Regions from separate parts of the Homo sapiens genome. Here all the other regions are linked to region 1. Evidence: fine-mapped expression QTL. A gene starts in region 1. Each other region holds a variant in brackets. All regions are shown on one strand. Distances are from middle to middle.

Evidence for each region. PIP is the estimated chance that this variant, and not a neighbour inherited with it, causes the effect. A credible set is the group of variants that fine-mapping cannot tell apart.
Region 2: its variant is the best candidate, but not a certain one, in a credible set for the expression of PANX2 in lung (TOPMed, PIP 0.63).
Region 3: its variant is the best candidate, but not a certain one, in a credible set for the expression of PANX2 in nucleus accumbens (GTEx, PIP 0.83).

What each region holds. Positions count from the first base shown.
Region 1 is chr22:50,165,004-50,174,981 of GRCh38, forward strand. PANX2 (pannexin 2) reads left to right here and starts at 5,728. Exons shown (of 3, transcript NM_052839.4): 1 at 5,728-5,953. The coding sequence starts at 5,728. RefSeq lists enhancers at 685-1,236, 6,561-7,253 and a silencer at 4,902-4,961.
Region 2 is chr22:50,124,350-50,134,327 of GRCh38, forward strand. It overlaps MOV10L1 (Mov10 like RNA helicase 1), which reads left to right. Exons shown (of 27, transcript NM_018995.3): 11 at 1,043-1,220; 12 at 1,853-1,923; 13 at 4,067-4,158; 14 at 9,658-9,716. Among named protein-coding and RNA genes, the nearest start is that of MOV10L1, 39 kb to the left of the region's middle. The variant G/C (reference allele first, on the strand shown) is at 4,567.
Region 3 is chr22:50,218,650-50,228,627 of GRCh38, forward strand. It overlaps TUBGCP6 (tubulin gamma complex component 6), which reads right to left. Exons shown (of 25, transcript NM_020461.4): 5 at 9,258-9,379; 6 at 8,350-8,428; 7 at 8,084-8,193; 8 at 7,638-7,729; 9 at 7,401-7,540; 10 at 7,145-7,294; 11 at 5,862-5,943; 12 at 5,683-5,771; 13 at 5,492-5,607; 14 at 3,805-3,943; 15 at 3,379-3,453; 16 at 1,602-3,225; 17 at 1,308-1,366; 18 at 995-1,142; 3 more. Among named protein-coding and RNA genes, the nearest start is that of SELENOO-AS1, 13 kb to the left of the region's middle. RefSeq lists an enhancer at 946-1,588. The variant T/C (reference allele first, on the strand shown) is at 4,791.

The sequences.
Region 1 (9,978 bases):
ATTTTTGTATTTTTAGTCGAGACGTGGTTTCATCATGTTGGCCAGGCTGGTCTTGAACTCCTGACCTCAAGTGATCTGCCCACCTCAGCCTCCCAAAGTGCTGGGATTATAGGCGTGAGCCACCACACCTGGCCAGAAATGCATTATTATCCGTATGGGGCTTATTTGCAAATAGTTAATGTCATCATGGGAAGATATTACTTAGGGCGGAAATGAGACAGGTTGTCAGTTTTTTTTCCTGTTTTTCATCTTCATGGATATAGAAGCTCAGAAAGCTTGTTCGCTTAAAGAGAGAGATGGGAATACAAGCTTTGCACAGCACGCATCGTCTTCAAGATCCTTCCATGTGTTGAAATCTCATGTTAATGTATCACCAAGAGAAAGAAGCAGCTGCTCCCATAATACGGGATTTGGGAAGACTGTCCTCCAGTCTGGGCCACTGGAGTGTGAAGACCGCAGGGGTGGACCCTTCACTCCTGCCACACATCCTCCTGAGGAGGGTAACAGGCTGGGCGGCCAGGGTGTCATCATGGACCTTTGCTCACCGTTCCACTCACCGGGAATGAGGATGGCAGCCAAGTTGCCGAGTTTTGAGTCCAGGCCCTGGCTCTGCCACAGGCGTTCTTCTTGTCAAGCTCCCACCGCTTCCTCTGCGAGACAGTGACTGGCCAGTGGTGCTCAACAGGCAGGCAAGATCACACCCACTCATAACCATCGTTGTTCACTGAAAAGGTGCTGTGGCCCAGATGCTGCCCCAGGCAGGGGCGTAACATGCAAAACAAATGCAGTAGGTGCAGTGGCCCAAGCCTGCAGTCCCAGCGTGGCTCACGCCTGCAATCCCAGCATGGTCCACGTCTCCAGTCCCAGCGTGGCCCAAGCCTGCAATCCCAGCGTGGCCCACGCCTGCAATCCCAGCATGGCTCCTGCAATCCCAGCATGGCCCACGTCTCCAATCCCAGCGTGGCTCAAGCCTGCAATCCCAGCGTGGCCCACGCCTGCAATCCCAGCGTGGCTCACGCCTGCAATCCCAGCGTGGCTCAAGCCTGCAATCCCAGCGTGGCCCACGTCTCCAATCCCAGCGTGGCTCAAGCCTGCAATCCCAGCGTGGCCCACGTCTCCAATCCCAGCGTGGCTCAAGCCTGCAATCCCAGCGTGGCCCACGCCTGCAATCCCAGCGTGGCTCAAGCCTGCAATCCCAGCGTGGCCCACGTCTCCAATCCCAGCGTGGCTCAAGCCTGCAATCCCAGCGTGGCCCACATCTCCAATCCCAGCGTGGCCCACGTCTCCGATCCCAGCGTGGCTCAAGCCTGCAATCCCAGCGTGGCTCAAGCCTGCAATCCCAGCGTGGCCCACGCCTGCAATCCCAGCGTGGCTCACGCCTGCAGTCCCAGCGTGGCCCACGCCTGCAGTCCCAGCGTGGCCCACGCCTGCAGTCCCAGCGTGGCCCACATCTCCAGTCCCAGCGTGGCTCAAGCCTGCAATCCCAGCGTGGCCCACGTCTCCAGTCCCAGCGTGGCCCACGTCTCCAATCCCAGCGTGGCCCACGTCTCCAATCCCAGCGTGGCCCACGTCTCCAATCCCAGCGTGGCTCAAGCCTGCAATCCCAGCGTGGCTCACACCTGCAATCCCAGCGTGGCTCACGCCTGCAATCCCAGCGTGGCTCACGCCTGCAATCCCAGCGTGGCTCACGCCTGCAATCCCAGCATGGCTCATGCCTGCAGTCCCAGCGTGGCTCACACCTGTAATCCCATGCCTGCAATCCCAGCACTGTGGGAGGCCAAGGCTGGGTTGGGTGGGGGTGGGGGGATCAGGAGTTTGAGACCATCCTGGGCAATATAGTGAGACCCCGTTTCTACAGATAAAAAAATTTTAAGGCCAGGTGCAGTGGCTTATGCCTGTAATCCCAACACTTTGGGAGGCTGAGGCAGGAGGATCACTTGAGCCCAGGAATTCGAGACCAACCTAGGCAACATGGCGAAACCCCATCTCTCAAAAAAATTAGCCAGGTGTGGTGGTGCATGTCTGCAGTCCCAGCTACTCAGGAGGCTGAGGTGGGAGGATCCCTTGAGCCCAGGAGATGGAGGATGCAGTAAGCCAAGATCCCACCGCTGCACTCCAGGTTGGGCAACAGAGTGAGACCTTGTCTCAAAAGATAATAGTAAAAATTGCTGGGTGTGGTGGCTCATGCCTGTAATCCCAGCACTTTGGGAGGCTGAGGTGGGCAGATCATGAGGTCAGGAGATCGAGACCATCCTGGCTAACACGGTGAAACCCCGTCTCTACTAAAAACAAAATACAAAAAATTAGCTGGGCGTGGTGGCAGGTGCCTGTAGTCCCAGCTACTTGGGAGGCTGAGGCAGGAGAATTGTGTGAACCCGGGGGGTGGAGCTTGCAGTGAGCCGAGATCGCGCCACTGCACTCCAGCCTGGGCAACAGAGCAAGACTCTGTCTCAAAAAAATAATAATAATAGTAACAATTTTAAAAAGCTGGGCATGGTGGCGTGCATCTATAATGCCAGCTACTTGGGGGGTCAAGGTGGGGGGATTGCTTGAGCCCAGGAGTTCAGGGTTACAGTGAGCTCTGACCAGTGATGCAGTGCTCAGGGTTTGAAGAGAGCGTGCACACAAACCGCTAGAGATAAACTCAAAGCACCTGGAAGCTACACCCGCCCCCCCTTCCCCCCGAGAATGGCAGATACTAGAAGGTGGATAGGGCTGAGAGCTGGAAAGAAGACAGGGATGGTGAGAGCATGGACTGGCCGAGCACTTCTGGAAAGCATGGAGAGGCACCCATGCGAAAGCAGAAAGTGCATCTGGAAAACAAAGGCAGCCACCCAGCAGCCACACTCGGGTCGCTCGGAGGGGCTGGAACTCACTGCACTGGGTTATCTGGGAGTGACTGAGTTGTCGGGGAGGGGGGGTGACTTGGTTATGTGAGGGGTGGCTGGGTTCTCTGGGGTGATGGTTATCTGGGGGTGACTGGGTTATACGGGATGGGTTATCTGAGGGGTGCCTCGGTTATCTAGGAGATGACTGGTTTATCTGGTTACCTGAAGGGTGACTTGGTTATTTGGGGATGATGATTTTATCTGGGATGACTGAGTTATCTGGGGGTGACTGAGTTATCGGGTGAATAGGTTATGTGAGAGGTGACTGGGTTATTTGGGGTGACTGGTTTATCTGGCAGTGACTGGGTTATCTGGGGTGAATAGGTTATGTGAGGGGTGCCCGGGTTATTTGGGGTGATTGGTTTATCTGGCAGTGACTGGGTTATCTGGGGTGAATAGGTTATGTGAGGGGTGCCCGGGTTATTTGGGGTGATTGTTTATCTGGCAGTGACTGGGTTATCTGGGGTGAAAGGTTATGTGAGAGGTGACTGGGTTATTTGGGAGGTGACTGGTTTATCTGGCAGTGACTGGGTTATCTGGGTTGAATAGGTTATGTGAGAGGTGACTGGGTTATTTGGGAGGTGACTGGTTTATCTGGCAGTGACTGGGTTATCTGGGGTGAATAGGTTATGTGAGAGGTGACTGGGTTATTTGGGAGGTGACTGGTTTATCTGGCAGTGACTGAGTTATCGGGTGAATAGGTTATGTGAGAGGTGACCGGGTTATTTGGGAGGTGACTGGTTTATCTGGCAGTGACTGGGTTATCTGGGGTGAATAGATTATGTGAGGGGTGCCCGGGTTATTTGGGGTGATTGGTTTATCTGGCAGTGACTGGGTTATCTGGGGTGAATAGGTTATGTGAGGGGTGCCCGGGTTATTTGGGAGGTGACTGGTTTATCTGGCAGTGACTGGGTTATCTGGGGTGAATAGATTATGTGAGGGGTGCCTGGGTTATTTGGGGTGATTGGTTTATCTGGCAGTGACTGGGTTATCTGGGGTGAATAGGTTATGTGAGAGGTGACTGGGTTATTTGGGAGGTGACTGGTTTATCTGGCAGTGACTGGGTTATCTGGTAGGGGTGACTGTTATCGGGGGGTGAGTTGGTTTATCTGGGGTGCCTGGGTTGTCAGGGTGACTGGGTTATCTGCCAGGGCTGATTTATCTGGAGGTGCCTGGGTTATTTGGGGTGACTGGGTTTATCTGGGGTGACTGGGTGGTTGGGTGCTGGGATTGGATGTAGCTGAACTGCCTGCCTCAGGATGAAGTTTGCTGGAAGTCAGGGGCTGGCATCCCTCAGAAAACATGCAAGGATCTTTAAAAACGCAGACGGCGTGAAAGCTCAAAGCAGACACATCCCCTACGCAGCCCAGGGAGGCAGGGGGACCTCCTGGTTTGCTCACAGCAGTGGCCGGGCCTGTGAACACGGGCTCAAAATACATTTTTGGAATGAATTATTGAATGAACTTAAAACTCCAATCACACTAAATCTTTTATATGAAAGATCGTGCACGTTCGTCCTGGTATAGTGGGAAGGGGACCTGCACGAGGGAAAACGGCTGCCTCGAAGAGGCAGGGACCACGCGGGATGCGCCCGCGTCTGAAGCCAGACCCCCGGCTCCCCGAGGGAGAACAGGACGGAGGGCGGGGCTGTGGGGAGCGGAGGGAATGAAGGTCAGGGAGGCGGCGGGGACCCCCTGAGCTGGCACAGGCCCCGGGAACGTCTGTGGAACAGGGGACGGGATGGGGCGTGGGGGAAGGAGGTGCGGGCTGCAGGAGCGGGGGTGATGGGGTCACTCACGGCGGCGGGACTGGGGGTACTGGGTGGGGGGGTCGGGTGGGGCCGGGGCTGCAGTGGAGGGTGTGGGGCGGGGAGATGCCCTCATTGCCCGCGCACTGGCGCCCGAGCCCAGAGAAGAGAGCGCCGGCTTCCCCGCCAGTGGCCGCAGCACCCCAGGAGCGCGGGAACCTCCGGACCCACAGCGGGGCGCGGCCGGGGCAGGTGGGGGGCCCAGGCGAGGAAGCCCCCTCTGCGCCCTGGGCTGGGCGAAGGGCCCTGCGATGCGACGGGGGCAGCCCCAGCGCGCGCCCAGTCCTCACGTCGCCACCGAGCGGCGCCCCCGCCCCAGCCCGGAGCCCCGCAGGGCCGCCCCCACCCCTGCCCACCCTCCCGCGGGCCGGGGCAGCCCCCCGCCAGCCACCCCGCGTTCCCAGGAAGAGGGACCGGTCATTACTCATTCATGTCCTTTCATTTCATTTCAATATTTTCTGCAAAGTCATCGCCCGCGCCGCATCTGCGTGGCGGGGGGCGGGGTGGGGCGGAGCCACGCCGCGGAGTCGCCGCAGGTAAACAGCCCCCTCCCCGCGGCGGGAGCGGGGCCGCCGGCCCCAGGCAGGGACAGCAGCCGCCGCCCGCGCTCCGGGCCGGGATCCCGCCGCCGCCCCCGCCGGAGGCACGCGCCAGGGCGGGGGCCGGGCTGCGGCGGAGGCGGGCGGCTCCGGTGCCCCCCGCCGCCGCCCCGGCCCGGCCCGCCCGCCCCCTGACCCCGGGGGCGGCGGCGGAGCGCCCCCCAAACCCCGCTGCGGGCTCCGCGCCCGGCCAGCCCCGCACCCGCCGCGCGCCTCCGGCTACTCCCATCCCCCGGAGCCCCCCGCTCGGTCCCGGCGTCCCCTGCCACCCTCTCCCGCGGCCCGCGGCCCCGTCCCCGTCCCGCGCCCCCACGCTCCCCGATCCCCGCCCCCGCGCCGCGCGTCCCCTCCCGCCCGCGCCCCCCTCGCCGGGCCCCGCCCCGCGCCCCCCGCCCCGCCCGCGCCCCCCGCCGGGCCGCGCCCCCCGCCCCCCATGCACCACCTCCTGGAGCAGTCGGCGGACATGGCGACCGCGCTGCTGGCGGGAGAGAAGCTGCGGGAGCTGATCCTGCCGGGCGCGCAGGACGACAAGGCGGGCGCGCTGGCCGCGCTGCTTCTGCAGCTGAAGCTGGAGCTGCCGTTCGACCGGGTGGTCACCATCGGCACCGTGCTGGTGCCCATCCTGCTGGTCACCCTGGTCTTCACCAAGAACTTCGCAGGTGAGGCCGGCGGCCGGGGCGCGGGGCGCGGGCAGAGGGGGCGTCCGCAGGTGTCCGGGAGCTGGCGCTTCCCGCGTCCCCGGCGGCTCCGTCCAGCCGCGCCCACCGTGGCCTGGCTGCGTCCGCGGCGTCCCAGGCACCTTCCACAGCCGCCCCCATCCTAGCAGGTGTCGCTGGTCGCACAGACCCCTCGTCTCTATTTTATTGTTGTTCTTCCTTCCATTCGTCCGCCCATGGCCGCGGGTGGGACTAGGCCTGTCTGGACCCAGGGGTCCCAAATGTCATGAGACACGGGGTCTGGTTTGGAGAATGTCACAAGCAGCGCCTGAGGGGATGCAGGGTGGCCAGGTGGGGACCAGGAAAGGCCGGGATGGGTGTTGACAGCAGAGAGCTGATTACAGGGGCTGGTGGAGCTGCCGGGCAGGGTTCCCAGGCTGGACTTGGGTGGAAGGAGGGCAGAGAGAGTCTCTGAGAGGCCCAGGCCCTCCACCCCTCAGGCAGGGCGAGGCCTCTCCGGGTGCACTGGGGGCCTCCGAAGGTTTGAAGCAGGGGGGCTAGCATGGGGCAGGGCCACGTGTCAGAGCAGGGAGCCTGGAGCTCCTGCAGGGAGATGGGGGCTGGACCAGGGCAGGGACCCGCGCTGGTTAGATCAGGACCTGTGGGGGCACTTGAAGCCACCCAGGCGAGGCAGGAAGATGGACAGAGCAGCCAGCCTGCCTGTGAGCCTCTGCGGGGTGGGGTCCTGGTGCCTCTGCCCTCCCCAAGGAGTGGGGCGAGACAGGTGGAGCCGAGAACTTCCTCCCCTGGGGTCTGGGCCAAGGCAAGGGGGATCAGGGTCTCCTGGCCTGTGTGGCCCAGAGGTACTAGTCTGCAGCGGGGAGGGGTGTTGGGACCCTGGGGCCCTCTCTTCTGCAGCCTCCAAACCTCAGCAGACCCTGCCTCAGCACTGGCGCTTCCCAAATCTCCCAGATGCCTTGCCTTAAGGAGTCCCCGTGGCCTGGAGACACCAGGCCTGAGGGTGGACATTGGCCAGGCTGTCTGATCCCACCCAGGGGTGGAGGAGGCCTCTGCTGGTCTCCTCTTCGACACTGGAGGCCAGACCCCGGGGATTAGAGGACCCCTGGGGTGGGCACACAGCACACTCTGCAGAGCAGGGAGCCCAGGCGTGCGGTGGGGCCTTGGGGCAGGCCCAGCATGTCCAGACACCACGTGTGTTCTCTGTGTTTGTAGCAACCAAGTACCGCAAACTAGGCAGTTTCAAACAGCAGACATTTATCTCTCATGGTTCCGGAGGCCAAAAGTCCAAAATCGAGGTGTCGGCAGGGCCCTGCTCCCTCCCACAGCTCTAGGAAAGGGACATTCCAGCCTCTTCAGCCTCTGGTGCTGCCGGCAATCCTTGGGCGCCTTGGCTCGTGGCCGTGCCACCAGTCTCTGCCTCTGTCTTCTCATGGGCTTCTTCCCTCCCTGTCTGTGTCCAAATTTCCTTTTTTTTTGAGACAGAGTCTTGGTATGTCGCCCAGGCTGGAGTGCGGTGGTGCGATCTGCAACCTCCACCTCTCGGGCTCAGGTGTTCTTCCTGCCTCAGCCCCGAGCCCCCAGTAGCAGGGACCACAGGCATCCCACACCACACCCAGCTAATTTTTGTGCCATGTTCCCCAGGCTGGTCTCAAACTCCTGGGCTCAAGTGATCCTCCCATCTCAGCTTCCCAAAGTGCTGGGACTACAGGCGTGAGCCACTGTGCCCTTTTCTCTTCTTCACCACCCCCCCGCTTTTTTTATTTTTATTTTTTGAGACAAAGTCTCGCTCTGTCACCCAGGCTGGAGTGCAGTGGTGCGATGTCGGCTCACTGCGACCTTTGCCTCCCGGGTTCAAGCGATTCTCCTGCTTCAGCTTCCCAAGTAGCTGGGACTACAGGCACCCGCCACCACGCCTGGCTCATTTTTTTTTTTTTTTTTTTGAGACAGAGTCTCGCTCTGTCACCCAGGCTGGAGTATAGTGGCGCGATCTCTGCTCACTGCAAGCTTCGCCTCCTGGGTTCACACCATTCTCCTGCCTCAGCCTCCCAAGTAGCTGGGACTACAGGCGCCCGCCACCATGCCCGGCTAATTTTTTGTATTTTTAGTAGAGACGGGGTTTTGCCATGTTGGCCAGGATGGTCTCGATCTCCTGACCTCGTGATCCGCCCACCTTGGCCTCCCAAAGTGCTGGGATTACAGGCGTTGAGCCACCGTGCCTGACCCATTTTTTGTATTTTTAGTAGAGACGGGGTTTTGCCATGTTGGCCAGGCTGGTCTCGATCTCCTGATCTCAGGTGATCCGCCCGCCTCGGCCTCCCAAATTGCTGGGATTACAGGCATGAGCCACCGCACCCGGCCCAACTTTCTTCTTTAAAGCGGAAAGGAAGCGAGCGCTCTGCCCCCGAGCACCCTCCCAGGAGCCTATGGGCTGGTTCCTCTTTTTGGCTTCATCATCCTTGGAGGGCCGAGCGCAGCCCCTGATGCCGCAGGGCAGGGTTGGGCCTGAGGGCCCGTGTGGCCAGCTGCTGTCTCAGGATGCAGTACCCTCGAAGGTTGGGGGCCAAGTCCCAGGGTCTCCAAGGTGGGCTGGGGAAGGGTCTCGGCCCCCCTCAGCCTGCAGAGAGTGGAGAATGTAGCAGGTGCGCAGCCACCGCCAGGATTAGCTTCCTGTGGCTGCTGGAACAAACCTACAAGTCAGAAGCCAGATGCGAGTCTCATGGGGCTAAAACGAAGGTGTCAGCAGGGCTGGCTCCAAGGGGGAACCCACTTTCTGCCTTCTCCGGCCTCCAGAGGCCTCCACATTCCTGGCCTTGCAGCCCTTCCTGCGTCCTCAGAGCCGGCTGCGTGGCGTTCTCTCTCCCAGCCCCACTTCTGTCCTCACATCTCCTCCCTGACTCTGACCCTCTTAGAAGAACCCTGCAATTGCTGCCCACCAAGACCCCCAGCCTAGGCATGTCTGCAAAGTCCTCGTGAACCGGGAAACGTGACACCGCCACAGGCTCCGGGGTTGGGATGTGGCATCTTTGGGGGCCATGATTCTGCTCACTGCAGACCCCATGTGGAGGTCTGTAAGGCCAGGGGAGTCGGGGAAGGGCCAGGGCCTGGCCTCGGCTGAGGGCTTCCAGGATGTGGCAGTGGTCTGGGGTGACCAGACAGGGTTTGGCCAGCAGGCAGGAGGAGGCTGCGCAGAGCCAGGGGTGTCCTGGAGAGGTGTCCCCACTCCCCAGGTGGGAGGACAGGGGTGGAAAGGGCTGTTGGGAGGGACCCAGCTTCACCCTTGGGGGGCACCTTGGGGCCATGTGCAGGCCAGATCGCAGGGGTGGGCTGGAGATGAGCTTGGGGATGGCAGAACCGAAGAAGGGCAGGACTGGGGGAGGGCCGGGGGGGCTGGGCTTTAGCCTCGGGTCCTGGGGACGGCATTCTGAATATGGGAATATGGGCCGTGTTGGGGTGTATTCAGACACCCGCTCAGAGGTGCTCCAAGCAGCACCAGGCCCCTGGCTGCCAACTCTGATATTGTCACTGGGGCTCTGAGGGCTGGGTGTGGACAGGCTCCTTGGCTGGGAAGCCAGTGTCCTCTCGGGGCATAGCTGGCATGGCCAGGATCCACACAGCAATGTCTTCCAAGAAACGGGCCCCTGGCGGCGGCTCTGTCTGCCCTGTTGGATGGGCCAGGCCTTCCTGCCTTCCGTTTGGACACCTGCACTGGCCCAGGCAGGGTCCCACTGTCCCTGGGAAGTCCCAGAGGAGGGCCTCGGACAGAGGACCCGTAGCAGTCGCTGCGTGTGGGATGGGCCCGTGGATTTGGGCTCAGCAGCCCCTCTCTGCTGCCCCACCCCGAGTCAGGCCAGCACCCCCGGCCCTGGCAGCCCCTGCTAGAAGCTGTGGCAGCATCCACCGGGAAAGGCCCGGCTGCCAGCACAGCTTTGAGTCCGTCAGGACCTGCTGAGGCTGCCAGGAGCACCCTGTACCCTGCAGGTGCAGCGGGTCCAGGGAGGAGGGAAGCC
Region 2 (9,978 bases), 41 kb before region 1:
TAATTCTTATCTTTGCTCTTTTGCACATAACGTTGTTTTTTCTTAGCTGCTTTTAAGATTCTCTCTTTTATCACTGATATTAATAGATTTGGTTTACGATGTGTGGTGGTAGAGATTCTTTTCTTCCTGTTCTTGTGCTTGGGGTTCATTGGGATTCTTGAATATGCGGCCTTGAGTTTTCTTCAGATTTGGAAATTTTCAGCCACCATGTGTTCAGACGCACTTTCTGCCCTCCCACTTTCCAATTCCGGGCAGGCTGCTGTGAGTTTTCCCCCACCTCATGCTGAGGCCCTGGTCTGGCCCCTCAATGGGTTTTGCAGGATGGTGTCTCATGCATTCCTTAGTGCTGAGCTGATGGTCCTGAGTGGGTCCCCTGACCCTCTCCAGACCACTCTGTGCTGCTTGCTCTTCCCAGCGCTCAGCCCCACAGATCAGAGCTCCTCTCCTTAGAAACCATGCAGCATCCCTGGGTCCTCTGTGCTGGGGCCTAGGAGCTCTGTTCAGGCACAGGTGGATCAGTCATGGGGCCCCCATGGATTGTTTCCCCAGTCTTGGGATCACAATCCTTTGCTACGTGATGTTCATTGTTTAAACACCATCGTTTCTTATTTCTCTGTCTCTTTAAGTTTTTTTCAGGTAGAAGGGTAAATCTGGTCCTTGTTAGTCCACCTTGGCCAGACCTGGAAGTTTGTCCTTTTTTCACAGATGTCTGTGGAAGCCAAATTCTGCCTTCCCAGAATTAACGTGGACAACCTGAAAAAGAGCAGGGAGGGTGGACAGGAGTGGGCAGTGCAGGGAGGGACACCGCCAGCTGGAGCCCCACTGCCTCATGCCAAAGGCCAGGGAGTGTGCTGGAGCCCCATGGCCCTCGTGCTGAAGGCCGGGGAACTTACTGAGGCACCTGCAGACTCCGGCGAGGATCGCCCCACCTGGGGGGCCATCTGCTGAACTGGAGCTGTTGGAACTTTCCTGCTCCGGAGCTGCTACTTTCCAGAGTGCTGCTGAGCTGTTGCTGACTTTATAACATTTGGGTGTTTTCCAGCTTCTGAACATGTCAAATTACAAGGAGAAGTTTTCGACTTTGCTGTGGCTTGAGGAGATTTATGCAGAAATGGAACTGAAAGAGTATAACATGAGCGGGATCATCTTAAGAAGGAATGGGGATCTGCTGGTTCTGGAGGTCCCAGGGTTGGCCGAAGGGAGGCCTTCTCTCTACGCAGGTGTGTTTGTTACTCATATGCTTCCCTGGGTGGACTAGCAGAGAAACCATACTTGAGAGAAGATACTCTTTAACTGGCAATATGACAGTCACATTATCGCATTTTCTTTCTTTTGGGTTAGAATTTCACTAAAAATCAGCAACCGATGTACATCAAGCATGTTTCTTTGTTGTATTTCATTAGTTGTAAGCAGTTGACCCCAGTAATGTTTTTGTTTGTTTGTTTGTTTGTTTTTTGAGGTGGAGTCTCGCTGTGTCGCCCAGGCTGGAGTGCAGTGGCGCAATCTCAGCTCATTGCAACCTCTGCCTCCCGGGTTCACGCCGTTCTCCTGCCTTAGCCTCCCGAGTAGCTGGAACTACAGGCGCCCGCCACCACACCCGGCTGATTTTTTTTTTTGTATTTTTAGTAGAGATGAGGTTTCGCCGTGTTAGCCAGGATGGTCTCGATCCCCTGACCTTGTGATCCGCCCGCCTCGGCCTCTCAAAGTGCTGGGATTACAGGCATGAGCCACTGCACCCAGCCTGACCCCAGTAACGTTTTATTGAACCTCCTCAGTGTTGGATTTTATAGGACAGCACAGAAATTTGTGATTTTGTGTTAGCTTTAAACATGGTAATATATTTTTTAACTAGGTGATAAACTGATTTTAAAAACTCAAGAGTACAATGGACATGCCATCGAATACATCAGCTACGTGACTGAGGTGAGAGCACTCTCTCTTAATGAGTTTGTGTTAGACACACCCTTCTGACCGGTTGGAAAGGTAACGTTCTCCCCACGGCTCTTGGGGAGATGCTCCCATATGCATTGGCTATTTTGGAAAATGTCAAGATACAGTGAATCTTTAAATAATTTTTGATGCATAAAGGAAACTTAATACTATAATTTTCAACCATGTAAAACATATTTATCTTTTAGGTTATATGTAAGTCATGAGGTTTGCGTTGAGTTGTATTTGGGCATTCTGAATGTATTCCAGAAGAGCTCGCAGAGTGGAGGCCTTGAAAGGAAAAATACACCTATGAGTTTGCAGCTCTGATGTTTGCGTGAAGGTGGTTTTTTTGGCTTTGAGTAGATCCTGGTGCTCCAGATGGTTCTGCATGGGGTGGTCTGTGACTCTTGGGCTGGACTTTACTGGTCATGTACTGGTCATAGCACTGGGAGTGATACTGGGATCTGCATGAGAAGGGAGGTGCTCTATCTGTGCATCAGAGAAGATGAAGCCACACATTACTTAATGTAGAAAACTTGAAGGGAGAATGCCAGAGCCTTTACTGTCAGAAGGAAGAAGGGCTGAGAGAACTAGAAGAGCCTGATAAGGATCTGGAGAAGAGGCAGCTTCCGACCTTTGATGCCACAGTCACTCTGCGCTACACCTTCATGCAGGGTCCATGCTGTGGCTGATTTCACAGAGTGGGATATTTCCCAGAAGACAACATCTTGGCAGGATTTCAGAGATTTTGTAATGAATTAGGCCATCGCCTGTGGACTGAGATGTGAGACACGAGTGACATGACCTCGCCAGCTCTCCATTACCCACCTTTGCTGTTGACCAAGTTGACATGAGGAGCCCAAGATGGCCGAATGACCATCTTAGCCTCCTAGACCAGCTGTGCCAAGAAAGGAAGCTTTGCATACCAAAACCTCCAAAGAAGCAGAGCCAGAGATCTCAGGAGGAAGGCACCTGCCTGCCTCCACCCCTGGTTCCTGAGCCATATGGCCGGGCCTCCATGCCATTGATCAAACCCTGGCATCTGAAATGACCTTCCGTATCCTTTTTAGCTCCAAAAATTATTTTCATCTTTTCAGGCTTTCTTGGATGCCACCTGCACCTGTTCTCAAGTAGACTAACGCATGTCTCCTGTGTATAGTCAGGACTTGGTCTGTCTTCCTCATCCTCAGGGGAAACAATCCCATGGCCCTGTACCACTGTTGCTTCCCTTCCTCCCGGAGCTGGAAGCCATCCCAGGGCGTAGCTTCCCGACTCTCTGCTGGTGTCAGCCCTGACCCTCAGGAAACTCACCCTACCAGGGTGTTGCCTGAGTCACCTGGAGAAGAGCTTGAGCTCCTTTTCAGATCAGGGCTTTCCTTCTTATTTTTCTACCCATACTGTCTAGGAAAGAATATGCAGAACTGATCATGCAGGATCTTGCTTTAGCTGGAGGGCTTTTCTACTAAAAGGATAAGTCTTGTAATGACTGTTTTTTTTGTTTTTTTTTTTGAGATGGATTCTCACTCTGTCACCCAGCCTGGAGTACAGTGGTACGATCTTGGCTCACTGCAACCTCCGCTTCCCAGGTTCAAGAGATTCTCCTGCCTCAGCCTCCCAAGTAGCTGGGATTACAGGTGCCCAGCACCACGCCTGGGTCCTTTTTCTATTTTTAGTGGAGATGGTTTCGCCCCGTTGGCCAGGCTGGTCTCAAACTCCTGACCTCAAGGTGATCCGCCCACCTTGGCCTCCCAAAGTGCTGGGATTACAGGTGTGAGCCACCGCACCCAGCAGACCTTCTTATCGAGGCTTCCTTACAGTAGGTAACACTTGGCTACCCTTGTGGTTGTTTTGTTTGTGTCCTATGGAGTCAGTGACCTCCCACACATTCTCTATTCTCAGAGCCTTAGGAGAGGCTACAGCCAAGTGAATAGAAGTTCAGTAAGTATGAGTGTGTAGTGATCCATTTCCTCTTGTTTGTATAATCGAATGGCGTAATGATTTAATCCTTTTCAACTAATTTTGCAGATATCAAATTTTAGCTCAGAGCTATAGAATGAATTTTTGATGATGTGTCGCTAGATAAAGATATCACATTATTTCAAGAAATCAGGTATATTGTTTGTTCCTTTTTTAGATTCATGAAGAAGATGTAACTCTTAAAATTAATCCAGAATTTGAACAAGCCTATAACTTTGAACCTATGGATGTGGAATTTACATATAATAGGTAATGCTTTTAGTGAGTCTTCTTTCAAATGTCTTTTTTTTTTTTTTTTTTTTTTGAGACTGGGTCTCATTCTGTTGCCCAGGCTGGATTTCAGTGGCGCAATCTCGGCTCACTGCAACCTCCGCCTCCCAGGTTCAAGCGATTCTCCTGCCTCGGCCTCCCAAGTAGCTGGGACTACAGGTGCCTGCCACCACGCCTGGCTAATTTTTGTATTTTTAGTAGAGGCAGTGTTTCACCATATTGGCCAGTCTGGTCTTGAACTCCTGACCTTGTGATACGCTTGCCTTGGCCTCCCAAAGTGCTGGGATTACAGGCGTGAGTCACCACGCCCGGCCATCTTTTTTTTTTTTTAATAGAGATGGGGTCCCAGGCTGGTCATAAACTCCTAGGCTCAAGCGATCCTCCTGC[G/C]TCAGCCTCCCAAAGTTTTGGGAGTATAGGTATGAGGCACCATGCCCAGTTAATTTGTCTCTTTATCTTTAATTGGACAGTGTTCTCTTGAGTATGTCTGTTGACATCTAAGTAGTGACGTAGGAGCCCCCACCATGCCTGTGGTTGACGTGTATAGGCCTTGTGGATGGAAGTGGGCTCCTACAGCATTTTTGCATACCCCGTGTTTCTAGCTTTATTATCAACTATTTTTTGAGATATAAAGGTGCATACATTTGCATGTGTATTCTTTCCCAGATCTCATGTGCACCGGATCTTTGGTTCATGCCTCACTGTCACCGTCAGCTACCAGCTCCTTACTTTTATTTGTTTTCTTGTCGGATGAGGGGTGCTGTGACCTGGCACCCAGCTGGCTTTTTCTTCCTCCACAAAACCATTAACTAGTCATGCACAAAAAATGTATTCTTCAGTTTTAATTCTTTTGAACTTTAGAAAAGGAGTAACTTGCTGTATTTGGTTCCTAGGAGTCGAGATTTTCACTAAACATTGTGTTCCTGAGATGTCTCCGTGTTGTTGTAACTGCTGTTCATTGGTTTGCGGTTGTGTGAATACCCGCTGTTTTTCTGTTGATGGACATCTTCATTGTTTGCTGTTACGATTGTTTGCTGCTGTTCCTAGAGCTGCTGTGTATGTAGGGATGGGATTGCTGGGTTTGGGGTTTTTCCAGCTTTACAAGTGGTTGCATCAGTGACTTTCAGTATCCATGTGTATAACAGCCTGCTGATCGGTGCCCTTTCTGTAATCTGATTTTGTTCGACTTCCTAATTGGTGCCAGTCTGGTAGGTGTGTAATGCATCTCATGATGGTCTTGATTTACTTTTCTCTGACTTATTTACAAGGCTGAGAATCTTCTTGTTCGTGGGCCGTAAAATGTTCCTCTTCCATGAAATGCTTGCTTGCGTCTTTTGCCCTCTTTTTTATTGAGTAATTTATCCAATTTTCATTGTTGTGGGAGTCCTTTCTGTATTCCTTATGATAAACTATTCTTAGGTACATATCTTCTCCAGATTTCTTCCTTATCTTTTAGCTTTTTAAAAAGTATCTTTTGAGGCTGGGTGTGATGTAATCCCTAACACTTTGGGAGGCCAAGGCAGGTGGATCTCTTGAGGTCAGGAGTTCGAGACCAGCCTGGCCAACATGGGGAAACACTGTCTCTACTAAAAATACAAAACTTAGTGGGCATGATGGCACATGCCTGCAGTCCCAGCTACTTGGGAGGCTGAGGCAGGAGAATTGCTTGAACCCAGGAGGCGGAGGTTGCGGTGAGCTGAGATCATACTACTGCACTCCAGCCTGAGACAGAGCGAGACTCTGTCTCAAAAAATAAATAAATAAATAAATTTTATATATATATGTCTTTTTATTAACAGAAGGTGCTAGTTTTAATATAGTCAAATTTATCAAATTTTTTTTAATATTAGTGCTTTTTATGTCTGTCTGAGAAATCGGCAGTATTTGGGCTACAGCCAGATTGGAATGTATTGAGAATGAATGAATGGACTACGGGGGAATGGAGAAATGTCGTTGATTCCTTTTTAAGGCATTTGCCGATGAAAGCAGGGAGGGCAGGATGGAGAGAGAGCGAGAGAAATTGGTGACCAAAGAGATACAGGAGGACCAGGAGGGGGGTACTTTTTGTTTGCTGTGCAAGATGAGAGACCCCAGCATGTGAGTGCCATGAGAAGACCCAGGAATGGGAAGGAAGGGGCAGCTGTGTTGGATGATGACGTGTGAGGGTTGGCTGGGACCACAGGGAGCAGCAGCGCTGGTAGAAGGCACACAGCCTCCATCATGGCAGCTAGAGAGACTGCAGCCGACGTCCAGGCCTGGACTCCTTGACCTGCTTTGACTCTGGAACAGAGCTGATTCTTGTAGTGTGAAGGGATATCTCGTTGTGGATTTAATTTGTATTTTTCTAATGACTAATGATGCTGAACATCTTTTCTTTTTTCTTTTTTTTGAGACGGAGTCTCGTTCTGTTACCCAGGCTGGAGTGCAGTGGCACGATCTCGGCTCACTGCAAGCTCTGCCTTCCAGGTTCACACCATTCTCCTGCCTCAGTCTCCCGAGTAGCTGGGACTACAGGTGCCCACCACCACGCCCGGCTAATTTTTTTTTTTTTTTTTTTGTATTTTTAGTGAGACGGGGTTTCACTGTGTTAGCCAGAATGGTCTCAATCTCCTGACCTTGTGATCTGCCCACCTTGGCCTCCCAAAGTGCTGGGATTACAGGTGTGGGCCACCACACCCGGCCACTGAACATCTTTTTATGTGCTTTTTTGCCATTTGTACAAAATACTTGTTGAAGTCCTTCCTCAAGTCTTTGGGCCCATTTTAAAAAATTGTTTTCTCATGATTGAGTTTGCAGAGATGTTTGTATAGTTTCAGTACAGTGCTTTATCAGATACGTGTCTGTGCAAATATTTCCTCAGACTACAGCTTGTATTTTCATTGTTTTTATAGTGCCTTTTGAAATGCAGAAATTATTAATTTTGGTGAAGTCCAGTTTATGAATGTTTTCTTTCACAGATCTTTTAATGATGCATCTCAGAAATCTGTAACTAATTTGGATCTCAACGATTTTATCCTGTTTAGAAACTTGGCAGCTTTATCCTGTACATTTAGGATTATGATCTATCTCATTAAGCTTTGCAAATTGTTTGTGGGGTATGAATGGAAATTGGAGGGTGGAATGAACATCCAGTTGTCCAAGCATTATTTGATGAAAAAACTGCCCTTTCTCCAATGAATTACTATTGTACCTTTGTGAAAAAAAAAAAAAGAAAATCAGTTGACCAAATATTTGTTGATCTGTTTCTGAAGACTCTCTGTTGTGTTCCATTGTACACTTGTCTGTCTTGACACCAACATTACAGGGTCTTATTGTCTGTCTTAGTACACTCAGGCTGCATTAGCATAGCACCATAGATGGGGTGGCTTATAAACAACAGAAATGTATTTCTCATGCTCTGGAGGTCAGGAAGCCCAAGGTCAAGGCACCAGCAGGTTCAGTGTCCTGGTGAGACTGCTTCCTGGTTCGTAGGCGGCTGTCTTTTCCCTGTGTCCTCACGCAGCAGAAGGGATGGGAGAGCTCTCTGTGCTCCCTTGTGTAAGGGCACTAATTCCATTCATGAGGCCCCACCCTCATGACCTAATCACTTGCCAAAGGCCTCAACTCCTCATACCCAGTAACATCACATTGGGGATGAAGTTTCACCATACGAAGCTGGGGGGAACACAAACCTAGTGTATGATATGTGCCTTTATGATAAGTCTCAAAATCAGGTAGTATCAAGCCTCCAACTTTGTTCCTTTTCAAGGTTGTCTGGCTGTTCCAGGTCTTTCTTCTTACATGGATTTTAGGTCATGTCAGTCTCTACAGAAAGCCTGTTGGGATTTTGATTGGGATTACATTGAACCTATGGGTCGGTTTAAGGGAGAATTGGAGAATTGAAATCTTAATAATAATAAGTCCTCCAGCCCTTGAAAAGGGTATGTCTCTCCATTTATTTGCATCTGTTTTCATTTCTTTTAGCAATATTTTATACTTTTCAGTGTATAGGTCTTATAGATCTTTTGTCAGTTATACCTATTTAAAATTTTTAAATGGCTGTTATAAACAGTAAATTTAACTTAAATTTCTAATTGCTTGTTTCTAGTATTTATAAAAAGCAATTGATTTTTGTATGTTTACCTTGTATCCTGCAAGTCTCCTAAACTGAATAGCTCCAGTAGCTTCTCCTAGAGTCTGTAGAATTTTCTACATATATAATCATTGATTCAAAGAATGACAGTTTTAGGTTGGGTGTGGTGGTTCACACCTGTAATCCCAGCACTGTGGGAGGCCAAGGCAGGCGGATCACCTGAGGTCAGGAGTTTGAGACCAGTCTAGCCCACATGGGGAAACCCCATCTCTACTAAAAATACAAATAATCAGCCGGGCGTGGTAGTGGTCACCTGTAATCCCAGCTACTTGGGAGGCTGAGGCAGGAGAATTGCTTGAACCCAGGAGGCGGAGGTTGCAGTGAGCCGAGATCACGCTACTCATTCCAGCCTGGGCGACAGAGCAAGCCTCCGTCTGAAAAAAAAAAAACCAAAGACAGTTTTACTTCTTCTTCTCTTATTTGGATGCTGTGTATTTGTTTTCCTTGCCTTCCTGCGCTGGTTGGAACTTGTGTGCCAGTGTGGAATAGAAGTGGTGGCAAGTGCTGCACTGGCTTTGTCCCTGGTCTTAGGGGCAGGGCTGTCAGTCCTGAGCGAGTTAGTACAGCGTGGGTGGTAGGTTCCGTAGTGGCCCTCTATCAGGTTGAGGAGATAGATTCTTATTTTAGTGAGTTTTTAATCAAGAATGGATATGGGGCCAAGTGTGGTGGCTTACACCTGTAATCCCAGCACTTTGAGAGGCTGAGGTGGGAGGATCACATGGGCCCAGGAATTTGAGGCTTCAGTGAGCTCTGACTGTGCCACTGCACTCCAGCCTAGGCAACAGAGCAGAGTCTCTAAAAAAAAAAAAAAAAAGAAAGAAAGAATGGGTGTGGGATTTTGTCCCATGCTTTTTTTTTTGGCTTCTTTGGTATTCTCTAGTGGTTTTTACAAAAATTTTTTTAGACAGAGTCTCACTCTGTCACCCAGGCTGGAGTGCAGTGGTGCCATCTCAGCTTACTGCAACCTCTGCCTCCCAGGTTCAAGTGATTCTCATGCCTCAGCCTCCTGAGTAGCTGGGATTACAGGCGTGCACCACCACTATGCCTGGCTAATTTTTGTATTTTTAGTAGAGGCAGGGTTTCATCATGTTGGCCAGGCTGGTCTCGAACTCCTGACCTCAGGTGATCCACCCACCTCGGCCTCCCAAAGTGCTGGGATTACACACGTGAGCCACCGCGCCCGTCCTCTCTAGTGTTTTTCTGTTCTCTATTTCATTGATTGTTGGATTGTTGCTGTGATTTTTTTATATTGACTTAAAGATTGTATCATAAAATTTTCATTACCTTATGCCAGCCTTAATATTTCTGAATGTAAGGTTAGTTATTTTATGTGGTTTTCTTTCCTGCAGGACCACAAGCAGACGGTGTCACTTTGCACTTGAACACGTCATCCACTTAGGTGTAAAAGGTATTACTTTTATAGAATGATAGTGTTACATCTTCACAGAGTATTTTTATAGGCTTCATGTAAAATTTTGTGTAAAATAGTCTCTTCAGTCATAATATTAGAAGTAAAACTTTTGTTATATTCATGTTTTTAATTTTCTATCAAGTTTTAGTGTTTTCTTACTATTTCAACTTAGTGAATAACTAATAATAGCATGCTTAAATAACCGAAAATAAATTTATCTTGCTCGCTTTTCCCTTCATAAATGTAATTTATGAATTTT
Region 3 (9,978 bases), 54 kb after region 1:
CCACAGGCAGGCAGGCCCCTGTCCCATCCCCCGCGGCCAGGGCTGCTGCTGACCTTGTACCTGAGCTCCAGGCAGCTCAGCACATCCGGGGCGTTGGGGGCAAACACCTCGGGCAGGTACTTGAGAGCGAGGGAGAGGTTGGAGGCGTGCGGGGTGTCCCCATGCAGGCTGCACTGCAGGGCCTTGCTCAGCACAGAGTTCAGCACCAGCGGGTTGAGCAGCTCTCCGGGCGTTTGCCCAGCTCCAAGCTAGGCAGAAAAGGGACCACCGTCCCCAGGAGTCCCAAGCACATGCCTGGCACTCGCCGGCACCCCATGGGGCTGTGCCAGAGCAGCAGGGGGCTGTGGGCGTGCAGCCAGTCTCTCTTTTCCCACGGCCTCCCCTCTACCACTGGCCCCACCCCGTGTCCGGAGGCCACCTTCTCAAAGAGCAGGTCGCTGAGGGACTGGGCGAACTCGCCGTCCTCCATCAGCAGGAAGTGCCGCAGTGCCTCATAGTGCGCCTCCAGGTGCAGCTCCACGAAGAAGTAGTCGACAGCGGCCTTGTTCACCAAGGAGATGCTGGCAGGAGGGAGCTGGAGTCAGGGCGGGCCAGGACGGGCTGGGTGGGCAGACTGGCGCAGGGGCAGGGGCACTCACTGGGCGGCCAGCGGTGCCGTGATGGAGCGCTTCATGAGCACGGGCAGCGTCAGCAACTCGCTCAGCTGCACAGCAGTCTCATCAGCGGCAGACTGGACCTGGGGGTCCACGGGGAAGGCGAAGGCCCGGGGAAGCACGGGGCGCAAAAGATGAGCAATGGGCGGCTCGGCTGCGGGAGATGGAGCACGCACGTGCTGGGAACCGGCCAGCCCAGGGCTCCGCCCCCATCCACAGGAGATGGAGCACGTGCTGGGAACTGGCTAGCCCAGGGCTCCGCCCCAACCCACAGGAGGTGGAGCACGTGCTGGGAACCAGCCAGCCCAGGGCTCCCTGCCAACAGCAACTGCTGCACTCACACATGGACTCGTAACTGTCCGGGTACCGCTCCAAGTGGTACTGCCCTGCCAGGCCTGCCAGGTAGGCCTGCTCCCCACCCTGAGCCTCCGCCGCCGATGCCTCCGCCTCCTCACCACGGCCTGGGCTGCTCTGGGCAGCTGTGTCTTCCTAACAAAACACCAGCCTCAGAACCACCTCCCCACTGCACGCTGTCCCCACAACCAGCTTGTGCCAAAAAAAGGAAAATCGCATGTGGGACCCACCCGCGTGACAACCTAGAGGGACAGAGCCCTCCCTGCCTGCTGTGGGACCCCCAGGCTGCATCCACCTAACCTGTGAGTTGAGAGGCCAATTTGGAGAGAGGTCCTCAGTGTCCCCGCTCCTCCCAGGGCCTGTGTGGACACAAGTGGACACGAGGGCATCAGGGCCGAGTGCCTGTGGCGGGTACAGAGCCGAGCCGGCCCTGGCTCAAGCAGCCCCTCCCATGTCCCCCACAGCAGCCCAGGTCCTGGCTGACAAGGAGGCCTGAGGGGAACTTCACATGCCACCAACCCCACTGCCCGCCTACCTCCCAGGCTCTGTGCGTCCCACAGTCCCACTCCTGACCACCAGCCACCCTACTCTGACCTAGTTCTTCAGAGACACTGTCTCCCGGGGTGTTGGGCCACCATGGTTGGGTGGGAGCCACGTCTGACACGTTCTCCCCCACGCTGATGCTCCCCTCCCCGCAGCCCGAGCTGGGGGAGGACAGAGATGGCCCCACTTCTACAGGCAGCCGTGGCCCACAGTCCAGCACAGTGCTCTGTGCTCCCAGGCTGAGCGCTGACTGGGACGTGTGGCCAGGGGGGCTCTGTTGGGGCCTGGGTGTGTTGGGCTCAGCTTCTGGTGAGAGAGCCCCCAGCACCATGTGGGGCGGAGGGATGGGTACATGGGTGTTCCACCGTGGCCGGGTGGAAACCACATCCGACACAGGCTCCCCCAAGCTGATGCTGGCGTCGGACACGTGTCCATGGGTGTTGCACCGTGACCGGATGGGAGCCACGTCCGATACGTTCTCCCCAACCCTGATGCTGGTGTCAGACACATGTCCGTGGGTGTTCCACCGTGGCCGGGTGGGAGCCATGTCTGACACAGACTCCCCCAAGCTGATGCTGGCATCAGACACGTGTCCATGGGTGTTCCACCGTGGCCGGGCGGGAGCCATGTCTGACACAGACTCCCCCAAGCTGATGCTGGCATCGGACACGTGTCCATGGGTGTTCCACCGTGGCCGGGTGGGAGCCACGTCCGACACGTTCTCCCCAACCCTGATGCTGGCGTTGGACACGTGCCCGTGGGTATTCCACCGTGGCCTGGTGGGAGCCACATCTGACACATTCTCCCCGACCCTGATGCTGGCGTTGGACACATGTCCATGGATGTTCCACCGTGGCCGAGTGGGAGCCACATCTGACACAGACTCCCCTAAGCTGATGCTGGCATTGGATACGTGTCCGTGGGTGTTCCACCGTGGCTGGGTGGGAGCCACATCTGACACATTCTCCCCGACCCTGATGCTGGCGTCAGACACGTGCCCGTGGGTGTTCCACCGTGGCCGGGTGGGAGCTATTTCAGAAGCGTAGTCCCCTGTGGGAAGACCACCCCCTGACACCTGCCCAAAGAGCCGCTCTGTGGGCTGGCTGCTCCCCTCCTCCAGAGCAGCACGCCTGGGTGGGTGTGAGGGGAGCAGAGTCTCCCGCGAGGCGGAGCCACAGGCATCCATCTTCCCACAACTGTCCTCCCACAGCTGTAGCCCTGAGCTGCCCAAGCTGCACTCTGCAGCCTGCAGGGGCCCTGGTGCAGGTGAGGTGGCCACAGCTGGCCTCAGGACAGTACTAAAGTCGTACTCCTGTGGCCTGGAGGGCTGAGTGCTGGCTGCTGCGGGTGCCTCCCCAGGAGCTGAGGGGGGCAGGTCCAAGTTAATGGTCTGCAGCGCCACCTCCAGGAGAGGGACCATGCCAGTCTGCACGGACGGCTCAGCCCCTGGGCCCACAGGTAGGAAGTCTCCAATGCTGAGGCTGTCAGAGAAGGGTCTGGCCCCCTCCGCCTGCTGCAGCCCCCTGCCACCAGCCCCCACTGCTAGAGGCTTAAGGGGCTGTGGGGTCAGCAGGCCTGGCCTGTTCCAGCCATCCCAGGCAGGCGAGTGTTGCTCTGCAGACCCAGAATCACAGCCTTGGCCTCCCTCTGGGTGCTCAGGGCCCGGAGACGTGACCTGAAACACAGGTGACATCAGACCCAGTCTGGTCTCAGGACCCCCCAGCCCTCGAACTGTCCCCCAAGTTCAGCTCTGCAGCCATGACCAACACCAGGTGCCGAGGGCTATGGGAAAACCATAGGGCACCCTGGGTTCCACTCTGCCGCTTACCTGGGGGTGCACGCTCAAGAGGACGTCTGGCGGCTCCTGGGGCTGGTGAGCCTCAGACACTGCTTTCAGCATCTCCTGAAATTCAAGCCAGAGGGGTGACTGGCCAAGCCGGAGTCAAGCACAGCCCTACCCCACACAAAGCCACAGCCCCTACCGCCCATGGCAGCCATGTGCACTGAACCAGACAAGGCTTGTGCTGGGCTCCAGTGGGACGCTGGGCCTGCAAAAAGTACTCCAAAACCACGAGCTCCTCACCACCTGTATCTGTGCAATTTGGTGGCACACGGGGAGAGAGAGTGCTCTGCCGCAAACGCGAAAGCCACCAGCCCTCTCCTAGAAGAGCATGTAGGTTTGTGTGCAGTCTCAGGGGGTTTCCAGACCCCCAAAGCCCAGGGGAAGAGCTGCCATCTGAAGCCGCAGACATACCTGAATGTGTTTCTCATCTTCTAAGAGAAAACGAAGCCGTGCACTCTCCAGTCGGTGCCTCTGGATTCTCCACAGTGCCTTCTGCTCCCGACGAGCTGCCTCTGCAGAGAGCTTGCTGTAGTGGTCGACCAGTGCCTGCCTGAAGCCACACACCAGAGAGGACACGGCCACAAGAGTCACCCCACCCCATCTACCTGGCACCCCTCAGGCCAGGATGGTTCTCCATAACAGAGGCCCCAGTGGGCCCCCGCCCCCGTCTCCCCCTACCAGGGGCTGATAGCTCTGGGCCCTCACAGCACCTACAGGGCAGCACCAGGCAGGCCCTTCTACCTGCCAGGCTGGGAGACCCTGGTGAGTCAGCGTCCAGCCAGGGCTCAGCAACATCTGCTGGACAAATACCAGAATGAGATCCTGTGTGGCCTGAAGCAAGGGGTGAGCAGGAGGCCGAGGGCCCCAGGCCTCTAAGAAGTTAGGCCTCTTCCCCTTCTACAGGTACAAACCTGAGAACTGAAAACTAATGCAAAAAAGCACATGAAGCAAAACCAACACAAACGCTTTATTTGCTGAATTCAAAGCCTGCTTCACCGATCGTGCCCCATGATTTTGAGCTTCTCACCAGCAGGCAACTGGGCTCAAACCTGGACTGGCCAGCTCTAATTTGGCTGCCACAGGCCAGAGACGTAGTGTCTAGGCCTGGTTTTCTCCATGTGTTAACAGGACAGTATCGACTGACATACATGCATGAACACGTACTCATGCATAAATGCATACACGGACACACGTGCACACAGGCACGCGCACCCCTCCACACACATCCCTCACTCGCTCCATAAAGAGATCTAAGGTTGGGACCTACAGCATCGCGTGGGGCTGAGCAGGAAGCGGCCAGCCCCTCCCGTGAGGGGCTCTCTCCAAAACCCCAAACAGCCCCTTGAAGGATCCAGCACTACTCAGCCTGGGACAGCCTGATGACAGCACAGGACAGG[T/C]TGATAACAGCACAGGGAGACAGACGCAGATGCTGTGCTGGACAAATGCCCTGTCTCAGCCGAGCGCGGTGGCTCGCGCCTGTAATCCCAGCACTTTGGGAGGCCGAGGCAGGTGGATCACCTGAGGTCAGGAGTTTGAGACCAGCCTGGCCAACATGGTTAAACCCCGTCTGTACTAAAAATACAAAAAACTAGCTGGATGTGGTGGCGGATGCCTGTAACCCCAGCTACTCAGGAGGCTGAGGCAGGAGAATTGCTTGAACCTGGGAGGCGGAGGTTACAGTGAGCCGAGATTGTGCCACTGCACTCCAGCCTGGGTGACAGAGCAAGACTCTGTTTCCAAAAAAAAAAAAAAAAAAAAAAACGCCCTGTCTCTGTCAGACCAATAACAGACTTAAAAATAAATAAGGAAGGATGTTCAGAAAGAAGATAAATAAAGAGACAGGACCCCAAACAGTACGCAGGCCTCGCCTGGACCCTAATCCATACAAACCACCACAAGACAACGCGCAGAACAGCTAAGGATGCCTGGATAAGGCAGAACGCCCACAGCCACTCTGGGTTCAGCATATTGGTCTTTCTACCTTAATGTATGTTTGAAGGTTTTCAAAACAAAAAGTAAAATCATCAGTAAGATTAAGCCAGAGCTATGGGGCCCCTGCCGCACTGCACCCCTGGGCCTGGAGCCCGGGCTGCCCTACCTCGCCTTCCTCTCCAGCTCCTCCTCCAGGGACTTCAGCCTTCTCTCCCTGTCTCGGAGTTCACGGGCGTAGCTGAAGTCATCATCCAGCTCCTCCTGCCTGGCCGCCTGGCGTCGCTATAAAACACATAGAGCCTGGCCTGTGAAATCAGAACTGACAGGCGTGACCCCGCAGGGACAGGTCCTACCCACCTCCTGGTCCTTCACAAATTGTTCTTTCAGCCTCTGAAACTGCTCACGCTTCCGGGCATCCAAGGCCATCCGTTCTGACATCTGCCGGTCTACATTGGGACAGTAAGGGGCGCACTGTCACAAGGAGGCCCCAGCAAGGCCCCCCGGAACTGCAGAAGGGAGGACTTGGGGCCACTCACCACTCAGTGCACTCAGGACCCTGGATGCTGCTTCCCGGGCATGAGCGATTAATTCTTGTTTTGCAATTTCCATACGTAATTCCTGAGAAAGACAACTGGTAATCAAAGCATCCTGGCCGGGCGCAGTGGCTCACGCCTGTAATCCTGGCACTTTGGGAGGCCGAGGTGGGTAGATCACATGAGCTTAAGAGTTCAAGACCAGCCTGGACAACATAGCAAAAACCCATCCCTACTAAAAATACAAAAATTAGCCAGGTGTAGTGGCAGGTGCCTGTAGTATCAACTATTTGGCGGGGGTCAGGGGAGCTTAGGCAGGAGGATCCCTTGAGCCTGGGAGGTGGAGGCTGCAGTGAGCCATGTTCGAGCCGCTGCACTCCAGCCTCCTGGCTGACACAGTGAGACCCTGTCTCAAAGAAAAAAAAAGCAACCTAATCCTCTGACCCCTCACCTAGGATGCCCAGGACACCTGTGGACTCAGGGCCGGCAGGGGAGACACATGGTCCAAGGGTTCGAGGAGGGACCAGGTGATGGCAGGACACCGCCCCCCCGCCCACCCTCCCCCACCCCCAGGCTCTCAGCAGTGGCAAGGCTGGTTCCAGGCCATGGACGGGAGCTGACCGGCTCTCACAGAGACATCTGGGGCTGAGGACCCCAAGGCTGTGTGTGCCCACCCTGGAAGGAAACCAAGAGGCCTCAAGAGGGGGCTTCCCCGCTCAGCCTCTTAGGCCTGCCCCTGCCCAAGTATCCCTGCTGCCCACCAGGCACCAGGCCAGAAAGGGTGTTCCTGGGAATGGCACTGATTGTACCACCGAGCCCCTCCCAGAAGACACAGGAGAGGCGTGGCCCGTCCCTGACACACTGTCCCTTCCCAGCAGGAAGGGGGCTTGCAAAGGGCGAAGGCCATCTGGAGTGCAGCCAGGACTGTCTGTCCACAGCTGGCGGGCCCGGGGAGGCCCCAACGGAGTTTCCCACGCCAGCAAAGCCTGGGCTTCAGGCTGAGCCACCCAGACCCAGGAGGAGAAGTCAGAGCCCCTGCCTGGCATCTGGCTCCGGACATTCATCTCAGCTCCCCCTTGGCACCCACCCTTCATCTCAACTCCCCGTTGACACCCACCCTTCATCTCAACTCCCCCTTGGCACCCACCCAGGCCACCGCCAGGACAGAAAATGCCAGAAGGGAGGCCCCCATCTTGCACAGCCCTCATGTCCGCCCCACCAACCTGAGACCCCAGGAAGCAGAGGCAGGGGCGAAGAAAGCCCCCGAGACCTGTGGTGCCACGCACCTTCTCCTCCTTGCTGACAGAGCTGTGGCGGGCCACCCTCTCCATGCGCCCAACGTAGACGGCACAGTCCTTCTCAATCTCCTTCAACTCCTCAAGGGAGAAAATCACCGAGATCCGGGGGACAGGGACGTCGGACCAACAGAGGTAATGCTGCCAAAGGGGATGCAAGCACAGCCACCAGCACTCAGCCCCAGCCTCATACTCAGCCCCAGGGAAGACCGGCCCCTCTCTTCCCCACACATGAGCCCCTCCTCACCCGGGGGCAGCAGAGCTTCAGCAGGTTAATGGTCTTTCCGCAGACGTATATGTCGTGGGCAATGTGCTTCAGAAACACGGGAACACAGTCCTCCACCTCTTTGGAGATGAGCACGTAGCCATGTGTCCAGTACAACTTATCTAAGGTAGGGTGAACACCACGGTGGCCGGCATGGCCATGGCCCTGAACCCAGGCCCACAGGCACGGACCCCTGCCCCGCAATCAGCTGCCACCTACCTCGGAAGCTGAGGTACTCGTGGTTCACCTGAATCATGAACTCGCCATAAGCGTCTCTGAACACCCCGCTGTACACCCAGTCGTGGATGAACCTGCAGTGGGGGAAAAGCAGGGGTAGATGTGGTCAACGGAGAGGTGGGTGGGGCGTGGCTGTCAGTGAGGGGTGGGACAGGGGCGTGGCTGTCAGTGAGGGGCAAGTGGGGGCGTAGCTGTGAGAGGTGGAGTGGGGTGTGGCCATCCATGAGGGGCGGGATGGAGTGGGGGCAGGGTGGGGGGTGTGGAGTGGGGGCAGGGTGGGGGGTTGGGGGCTCCTGCCCAGTCCACCTATCCTGCCCTCCCCTTCCTGTGTGACCCCCACATTCAGCAGGTGTCTGACAAGGGACCGCTCTCAAGTGTCTGCCTGGTGGGAGTGCGCGCCCGCCGCGCCTGCCCAGCCCACTGCCCACCGGGTGTAGGGCTCGCAGCTGGTCTTCAGCAGGGACAGCAGTACAGGGTAGTGCTCGTTGCTGCAGTTGTGCAGAGCCTCCTGGTAGAGGTAGGACAGCAGCTTCACGCCCTGCAGACCGCAAAGGGGGTGGGGGGCAGCTCAGCGCACCCAGCGCTGGGAGTGAGGCGCAGCCCTGCCGGCAGCAGCCCTCCAGGGACACGCTCAGCCACCCCCGTTTCCTGGAGCCCACCAGGCTGACACACTCGGCAGGGACGCACAACTCACGGTGGGAAACGCGGCCCTGGGGCCTCCTCCACAGGTGCCCGGGAGCACAGCGCCAACGCCACAGAGCTCGGCCAGGTACCTAGACCCAGAGGCAGGATGAGACCAGGTGACCGGGCTCAGGGTTCCCAGGCCTGGATCAGATCGTGAGCAAAGTCTCCACGTATCTTTATGCTCCCTGGGGCAACTAACTTTAGATGCAGGCTTTAAAAACCACAGGCACCCCAACCACCCAGAAACGGGCTCCCTGCAGGACTCGTGTGCAGCCCTGTGCCCCTGCGCTGTCCACACACACCCCACTGAAGTACCCACACCCAGCAGGCCCTCCCTCCCAGGATCTGGCCAACACACGAATCACCCTGATCCTCCCACTTCTGGGGGCTGCACCTGAGAGCCCCTCCCATCCACACAGTGGTACCAAGCATCTGCCACAACTCGCACCCTTCACAGCCCAGCTCCCCTGCCCCACAGTGTCTCAGCCCTTGGGTCTCCTCAGCGCTGCCACACTCTGCTCCTCAGCCTGGAAGGTCGCCTCTCCCACTGCTCCCAATGCCCAGCTCCTCACTCTTCCTTCTCTGATGGCACCTGCCAATAGCCCCCGAGCCTGGTTGCTCACTAACCAGCTTGTGTGTACCGGACGCCACATCTCCAGGGACCCTGTGTGCCAATTAGGCAGGAGCCACCGGACCTGGAGGGCCTGGATGGGGCCAGCTGTGGTGGGCCCACGGCAGACACACCCGCTCAGCACCGGGCACCTGGTGAACTCGGCCGGCCAAGGGCCATCCGGTCGCCTGCTGAGGGCTGTTCTCACAGGCCCTCCTTGCCAGGGAGCAGGGCAAACCCTCCACCACCCAGCAAGCCCCACACCGCTCCCGCAAAGTCCCCTGCTCAGCCGCCATGCTGAGGCTCACCTGAGCTGCCGGCCAAGTTTCTTGAAGAGAAAACCAATGGTGAGGAGGCTCAGGGTGGGCGGAGTGGAAAGGACGCAGGCCCGGTAATACTGCAGGTACCTCCTCAGGCCACTGGTGAAGGCCTGTGGGCAAAGAGGCTGGGAGGAGGGCGGCCAGGCACATGGACGCAGCCGTGCCCAGGGCCTGAGGGGCACCAGTGCTGGGAACAGCGCTTTGTTTCTTGCCTCAGCTCTGGGCTCCATTTCCAAGCAATGGGCCTCTGTGAGCCACACCCCGCCACCGGGCCAGGTGGAAATGCGGCCCATCCACAAGAAGCCAGAAGCTGTGGCCCACCACCAACCCTTCCTCTCATCTGAGCCCAGCTGCCCCAGGGGCGCCCACCACCAACCCTTCCTCTCATCTGAGCCCAGCTGCCCCAGGGGCGCCCACCACCAACCCTTCCTCTCATCTGAGCCCAGCTGCCCCAGGGGCATGGCAAAGGGGCTGGGGGGGAAATGGCGGCCGTGCTCTGTGCACAGACACTAGTGCTGTGAGGGCTGCAGCTGCTCCGACCACAGCTGTCTCAGTGGCACCAGCATCCTGGGCAACGCCACAGCAGCAGGCCCTGCAGGTCACACTAAGACAGGGGCACCCTGGACCAATCTCAGTCCACCCACCCCAGGAGCCGCCTGGCTATGCCTGCCAGATGAACAAGAACCACAGTCCAGCCCTTCTCAGCGTC